Homo sapiens: one gene and its partner. The protein of the gene in region 1 purifies or fractionates together with the protein of each later gene. This does not show direct contact. Each region holds a gene or a part of one and is shown on either strand. Other genes may lie near its edges. The genes, in order: AKR1C1 and TMEM59.

The links.
Region 2: the proteins of AKR1C1 (region 1) and TMEM59 purify together in Homo sapiens (co-immunoprecipitation; one large-scale study listed by IntAct). This does not show direct contact.

The regions. Positions count from the first base shown.
Region 1 is NC_000010.11:4,961,947-4,966,494, forward strand, and holds the start of AKR1C1 (aldo-keto reductase family 1 member C1), read left to right. Parts: upstream 1-1,468; 5' UTR 1,469-1,498; coding exon 1,499-1,582; intron 1,583-3,967; coding exon 3,968-4,135; intron 4,136-4,548. UniProt on the Homo sapiens protein: Cytosolic aldo-keto reductase that catalyzes the NADH and NADPH-dependent reduction of ketosteroids to hydroxysteroids.
Region 2 is NC_000001.11:54,036,205-54,039,704, reverse strand, and holds part of TMEM59 (transmembrane protein 59 isoform 2 precursor), read left to right. Parts: intron 1-2,986; coding exon 2,987-3,095; intron 3,096-3,500.

The DNA of each region.
Region 1 (4,548 bases):
GTTCTATGTCATGACAGTCATTAACTTATATGTGTGGCAGGTTCTCAGTCAAGGCATCAGCCCTACATAAAACCTCAAGTCCTTCTTAGTTTGTTTCTGAACATGCACCTACGTGGACTGTGTTTGCCCTTTTATGTATCCCCAAATAACCAATGGCTTTTGAATTGCTTACTATTATGAAATTTCGCATCCCAGTTTCTCCTCAATGGCTTAGATGGACTATTGCATGTCTCTTCCCCTGGCCTTTTGCCTATAACATCTGTATGTGTATAGTCACCCTGAATCTCTACTGAGCCACTCCAGAAATAAATAAGTTTATTTCAGTCAATTTTAGGTATTTTCTGATGTTTCCATGAGTTATATGGGAATCTTAGAATCCACCATCTTGTTGAAATTACTCTGTGAAAAATTTCAATATCTTTATAATATTACATTTATGTCAATGATAACAATTTACCTATTTTTCAATTTCTGTTTGTTTTATGAAAAAGCAAATAGAAGCAATCAGGGCACTGCAAGTTGTGACTACTCCAAGATGTGAATCATGGATCATGCAAATTACAATCATGTTTTAACCTGACCTCCAAAGGGAGAATAAAGTAAAAATTATCCCATGCGAGGATTATTCACCAGTTTATATGTCATTAGTTACCAGTTTTTCTTTATGAATAATGTTTAGCAATATTATAAAGTATATCTAATAGTTATCATATTTTGGCTTGTTACTTTTTGGTAGCAATTCATAAAAATGGCTGGAAAAGACAAATAAGGCACTGTTTGCATGTTACAAATTATATCCAAAGTCCAAAAGCTGTTAATAAGAAATCTTCCAATAAAACCACATCATATTTTCTTTTTTATTTACACCCACATCAGGATTACAACTTTATCAGGACTGCACCTTGATCAGGAAGGGATGTTTCTCTTACAAGGCTAATAAGAAAGGAACAATAAATTTGCTGATGAAAAAAGTAATGCATTAAAAAATTTTAACTTTAATTTTTAATTGAGGGCAATATTTTAAAGAAATGCTCATTAGTCATTCCTTTAAATTGTGTGTGTGAGAGAGAGAAAAATGAAAATTAGTCATTTCAAATGCTGCAAGATGCAGAAGGAACTCATCATCATGACACAAACAAAAAAGAGCTGTGCCGCTAGAGGTTTCTGTATTCTTATGTAAAGTCACAATTTGTTCTACAAATCTCTTTGAGTAATTTATGTCTCATATATAGAGATCTGGAATAGCAAAAATACTTCAGAGGAAATTAATGAGTGTATCATGACCACATAATAATTTACTTATGAATTTTCTTAGGTAAGAAACGGTTGAACTGGATGCAATTTTTATCACAGCTTGTGTAAGACTGCCTCTGTCCCTCCTCTCACATGCCATTGGTTAACCAGCAGACAGTGTGCTCAGGGGCGTTGCCAGCTCATTGCTCTTATAGCCTGTGAGGGAGGAAGAAAGAAACATTTGCCAGCCAGGCTAGTGACAGAAATGGATTCGAAATATCAGTGTGTGAAGCTGAATGATGGTCACTTCATGCCTGTCCTGGGATTTGGCACCTATGCGCCTGCAGAGGTAACAATAATATTTTTAGTGTTGAGAGTTCAAAGGAGCTAGAGTAAGTGGAAGCTGACCAGGTTGTCAGGCTTGTGTTCCTATGTTACTCTGCATGACTCCCCTTTAAACGTCAGTCTTTGTTCTGCAATGCCATCTTGTCACAGGGTCATCTACTGCTTATTTGTGGCACTGTTTTGTCTTCTGTTTATGTTTATTTCACAGCTTGTCAGAGTCTATACAACTCAGCAGAAAGAACACGGCTTGCCTGCTCCCTCTCTTGAAGATTGATTGCAATGGGAGTGGTTTCTCTGTTTCTTTGTATAGTCGAACAGATATTTACTTCTTCCAAGAAGATACAATTCAGAGGAATTTTTATGGCAAAAGTTAGTGGAGACGGGGTGGATGAAATCTGTTGGGAGAGTATCACTGTTCTGATGGGCGGCCTTGAGCACCACACTGTAATACTAGACCTGGCCTAAAGAGAATTTCTCATGTACTATTCTCACCTCTGGGAAAATTACCTGAAACGATAAAATATCCTCATTTTAAGAAAAAAAAAATACTAGAACCTAACAAGGAAAATTTAAATTCTTTTTCTTTGTTAATATGGGTCAAATTTGTATCAAAATATTGTAACAGAAAAATTTCTTGTTTCTCTGACAGGAAAATTAATGGAATAGATTTTCTTTTCTAGACTTAGCTATTTCTACACTGGAAGAAAACTTGTATCTCAAGACTGTCTTGGGAATACAATGTGTGTGAATAGGGACTAGTTACATAAAATTTGGGTTTCACATTTCTGATCTATACAATATAAGGATTTACAAAGGGACATTTTGAAGACCATTGACAGGAGTGGTTTACTTTGTAATATAAATTGACATGGAGAGGAAGTAAAGATGAGGATACCACTAAAGCTCCAGCTTTGGTAAGCCTTTGAGTACTCATACAGCAAAGAAATGATCAAGGATGGTATGAGGAGAGGGCTGTGAGACCCAGTATCTAGTTCCTTGTAATTCTATGGGAAAAAGAAAGCCTCTGAAATACTTTCCAGATAGGAAAACAGTTTGCTTTGTTTCTGTTTTTGTCATTTAAAAGATATACTTTCAAATCTGTATCCAAATTTGTTACGTAAGTCAATAATTGTAAATTTCACTGCAATCATATGTTTCCTAAAAGAGTTGCCTTGAACTTATGGAACTGAACCCCATTTTGCTAATCACTTACTCCTTGCAGTCTATTTCTTATACAAATCAATATCCTTAGAGTATACATTTTTACACCTACTATTTAGTTCTGTCATGCCGACAGAATGGCTAATGGCTGTGTAGAAAAGACTTGACATAATAGACTGCTATCCATAGACAGGCCTGTTTCCCATATAAACCTGCTGGTATCTGATAAGGTGGATTTCTCACTATTTCCTAACTGATAAGAATGGTGGCTGTAAGTAACTGCTTGTGCAAACTGCGGAGTTTCTGTGCACCTGCTTTCCTTTTGGAGACTTTTGGAAGTTTTGTGCCTGCGAAGCAGAGTGAGTCAATGTAACCAGTCCCAGACAAAATCTTAGTAATGGAGTATGTAGAGAGCATCTCTTGTAGACAACAGTTCACATACATTGACAAAATATGATTCCGGGTAAAGTCAGTGCATTCTGTGCAATATGGTGGGAGAGGAATCACAGGAGCTTACACTGTATTCCTTCATATTTCCTTCCATGTGGCTATTTCCTCGTGTTAATTTCTTTTTTTGTTTGTTTGGTTTTTGTTTTGTTTTTCTGAGATGGAGTCTCGCTTTGTCGTCCAGGCTGGAGTGCAGTGGTGCGACCTCAGCTCACTGCAAGCTCCGCCTCCTGGGTTCACGTCATTCTCCTGCCCCAGCCTCCCCAGTAGCTGGGACTACAGGCGCCTGCCACCATGCCCGGCTAATTTTTTCTATTTTTAGTAGAGATGGAGTTGTTAACCAGGATGGCCTTGATCTCCTGATCTCATGATCCGCCCAGCTCGGCCTCCCAAAGTGCTGGGATTACAGGTGTGAGCCGCCACGCCTGGCCATTCCTTGTGTTAATTTTACCATACTAAAAATAATTAAGATTATATCTATAACTATAGGTTGCATCCTGTTAATTTTTCCAAAAAATGACTGAACCTGAAATTGTTTTGGGGACACTTCCAAACTAGTGGTCAAGCAGTGATTTTTCTGGGACTGCAGAAGTTCCTGCTGTGCCCAACCTTTATTACTAACTGGGAAAGACCCAGGGAGACTGGGATGGGCTCATGATTCTACATACAGAACTCATCCAAGAAAGGAGGAAAAGCTGATTTTTGTGAACGTCGCTACTTGTGCCTGAACTAACTCTCAGGCACATTAGTCAGAAAATACTACCTATGGTTACTCCCCCAGGTTCCTAAAAGTAAAGCTTTAGAGGCCACCAAATTGGCAATTGAAGCTGGCTTCCGCCATATTGATTCTGCTCATTTATACAATAATGAGGAGCAGGTTGGACTGGCCATCCGAAGCAAGATTGCAGATGGCAGTGTGAAGAGAGAAGACATATTCTACACTTCAAAGGTACTGTGCCTATGATGAGCTTGTGTGCACATGTATTTATTGTGATTGTGTGGAGGTGGCAGTTCTATGACTGGATCCATAGTATAGGGTGAATTGTGCTTATTTATTACGATTTATTCACACTTACTCATGTATTAAAACTAATATCAAAGGCAGGAAGTGAAGATGGCTTTCTCATCTTTGCAGTGTTCCAATTCATGCCTTCAAAGTGCCTTTACTTTTTGAGCTCAGCACAGATCAATATGGTTTAACATAGACTATAGAATCAGAAAAAATCCTAATCATATTATATTATTTCTTACCTCCTGGGTGAGTTTCTTACACTTGTTATGATTCTCAGTTTCCATTATTATGTTGATCATAGAGAGAGAAAGCAATATAAGCAAGCTCTGTGAGTATTAAAGAATAACGCC
Region 2 (3,500 bases), on another chromosome or scaffold:
TGTTCATTCTAGTGGACTGTTCTATCTCAAGTATAAAACTGCAGTAGTCCAAATCACATGCTCCCTGTAATTTCTTATAGAAACAGTTTCTTGAGAGGTTTTATCATATATCATTACAATTATGTGGACCTTACAAATTAATACTTTTTACTAAGCAAAATGTTTAAAGACTATGTGAGAAAACAAGGATTAAACTTTAAATTTTATCCTTCGTTCATTTCTAAACCTGGTTTTGAGCTTGTCCAAAAAAGGGCAGTTTTTCTTTCCAGTATTTAGGATGTATGTTGCAGTTTGATAGTTCTGTGAAACCTAAATAATTATTTAATCTTAAGTTACAGTTCTCAGTACTGTACTACCTGGCATATTATTGGTGATTTATTGACCTTTAACATTTTGTCATTATATGTTATGTTGTTTTTTTACATCTAACACTTTAAAAGTAATTTTGTGAAGCAACTAACTTTATAATGTATTTATAGAAATGTATTTCTTAGAAGTTTCTGTGCCCAAACATAAATTATAATAGGATCCTACATTTGAATAAAAATTATTCTTTTGGCCGAGTGCGGTGGCTCATGCATGTAATCCCAGCACTTTGGAAGGCCAAGGTGGGAGGATCACTTGAGCCCAGAAGTTCAAGATCAGCTTGGGTAACATAGTGAGACCCCATCCATCTCTACAAAAAATAAAAAAATTAGCTGGACATGGTGGCACACACCTGTAGTCCCAGTTGTCAAGAGGCTGAGGTGGGAGAATCACTTGAACCCAGGAGGTTGAGACTGCAGTGAGCTGTGATCGTGCCATTGCACTGCCTGAGTGACAAAGCGAGACTGTCTCAAATTTTATTATTTTTTTAAGTGTTCTTTTTTTAAATGCTTTTTCCCCTTCAGTGATCCCATTTGACTTTTAGAACAATACCCTGTGATAAGTAGGTGGTGATTTAGAGAGGTGAATTGACTACTCGCAAGGTTATACAGTCACTATGTTAGCATTCAAACCTAATTTTTCTAACTGTACATCTTCTGCTCATCCTATTCTGCTGTAACTATTTACTTCCTAAAGTGTCATGATTTTTCCATGATTACATACAGAATCACTCAGCCAGTTATTGGAATCTGGTCGTAGCTGTTAAAGAGACACCCTTGTCTCCAGAATGGAAATTGAGGTCACTCTTTCTTCACTTGCATTTCTTTTTGAGGAGCCAGGCACTGTGCTAGGGAGTTGAGACCTAGTAAAGATGTCAGGAGTTCTCAGATCTAAACAGACATGGACAATAATGATTGCTATACACACACACAGTCCTACACATGTCTCATACACAGCATATAAGGACTGTATTTAAGTCTACTGGAGGTTTCAAGGGGAGGATTGACAGGTGAGATAGAAATATCTCAAGTGATGAGTAGAAATTTTTGCTAGTTATAGCAGAAGATTTACTTAAAATTTTTTTTTCAGATATACTGGCCTCCTGCTCAATGTGTATAGGGTACATTACTATATATGGAGGATAAGGAGAGTCAGAAATTTGACTGAACTGGGAAAACAGGAATAGAGAGAATCAGGAACATAAGTGTCAAGAAGAGGCTTCTATGTGAAGGATAGATTAGAGGACCAGGTTGGAGAACTTTGGTAAATCAGGGAAGAAATTATGAGGTCTGGATTAGGGCAGTAGATAAGAACAGGAGATAATGGAGATAGTTGAAAATCTGTAGGATCTAGTCATTGTTTTGTTGTGGAGATTGAAGGGATGAGCCCCAGTTTTCTGGCTTAGGTAGTTGCTACTGGAATCTAGATATCAAATATATCCTCATTTTGTGGTAAATTCCTTAGTACTCAGGTTACTTAGGGCTGGAACATGGAGAGGAAAGTGGGTATTTGTTCATTAAAAACATATTTTACTCTATTATCTTTCTAAATTGGATACTTAAAGAATCATATGGGAGTTCCCTGCTTTTAGATACAATACATTCTCCAAAGTCCACCTCTTTTGCTGGCAGACAAACAATGACTGTGCTTACTGCATGTTCAAGTCTTGGCAAACTATCAAGTGAGTGATTAGGGTGGTAAGTATAGATCTCTTACTAGGCAGTGTTGGATGAGCAGAGATGTGAAAATTAGGGAGTATCTGTATTACACAGTTTGTCAGAGTTAGACTTTTAATTATTTAAAAATGGCTTGACTTTTTCCTATTCTTTGAATCTTAATAGGTCAATTATGAAAAAAACTCCAGGTGGGAGAATGGCTTGCGCCCATGAGTTCAAGGCCAGCCTGGGCAATATAGTGAGAGCTTGTCTCTATAAAAATTCAAAATAAATAAAAATAAATAAAAAATCTCTAATTGCTGATTCTCATAACTGGCCTTCTGTCTTAAGATATTTTAATTATAAGGAAAATATAACTATCTCTTTACTGAGATATGCTGTAATGGTTACAGAATGCCTTATAATAGCTGTGCTTTTTTAAATTGAAGTATAAGTAAATTATGGCAAATTGAATATGTAAAGTATTCTAGGGAAACTGACTTCTGGAAGCCTGGTGTGAATTCTTTTATAAAACAAATGATCATTTTAAATTTACCTATTCTATACCTTAACTTTTTGGTATATTGGTTTTCTTAAAGCAAGTATCGTAATAACTTGCAAAATAATATATGACATTTGTACAACAGTGTACAATTTACAGGACACTTTCACTTGCCTTATATATTTAGCAGAAAGTCAAGTATATCTGATTTTATTATTATTACAAAAGTGATATAGCCATGTTACAGAAACATTAGAAGTGGAGGAAAAAGACTTTATGCCAACCTAATGTAATAGCTATTAGTATAATATTTCCTTCTGTAAGTATGTTTTTTAATAGTTTCAAAGATAACCAACAAAGTTTTAATTGTACTGTTGAGCTAAGTACATAAGGTTGACTAATTAAGAATTTCCTGTTTCTTATAAAATTTTAATATAACTAATTGTTGATTTTTTTTTTCCAGTAACTCTGGGTGGATTTTAACTACAACTCTTGTCCTCTCGGTGATGGTATTGCTTTGGATTTGTTGTGCAACTGTTGCTACAGCTGTGGAGCAGTATGTTCCCTCTGAGGTAAATTTAATTCTTACCATTTGAAGACTGAGCCCTGTGATATATCATTTTAAACACCTTATTTGTTTAGCTGGAAAAACAAGGCCTTTCTACTAATAGAAAGAGAGAAGATGTGGTGGTTTTAATGTGGTAGAGGTTGGCACACATAAAAATTACAGGTTTGCAGCACAAGAATTGTTGTTCTCAGCTTTCTGTGATGCTAACTACCGTGGTGACATATATGTTGACTGGCTTGAGAACGGTGTCTCTTTCTGACTCTCTAAGACTGAAAAGACCTGTTGACATCAGTTTCTAGGGGATATATGGGAAAGAAGACTTTTTTTTTTTTTGAGGCAGAGTCTCATCTGTCACCCAGGCTAGAGTGCAGTGGCCAGGATCTTGGCTCACTGCAACCTCTGCTTCCTA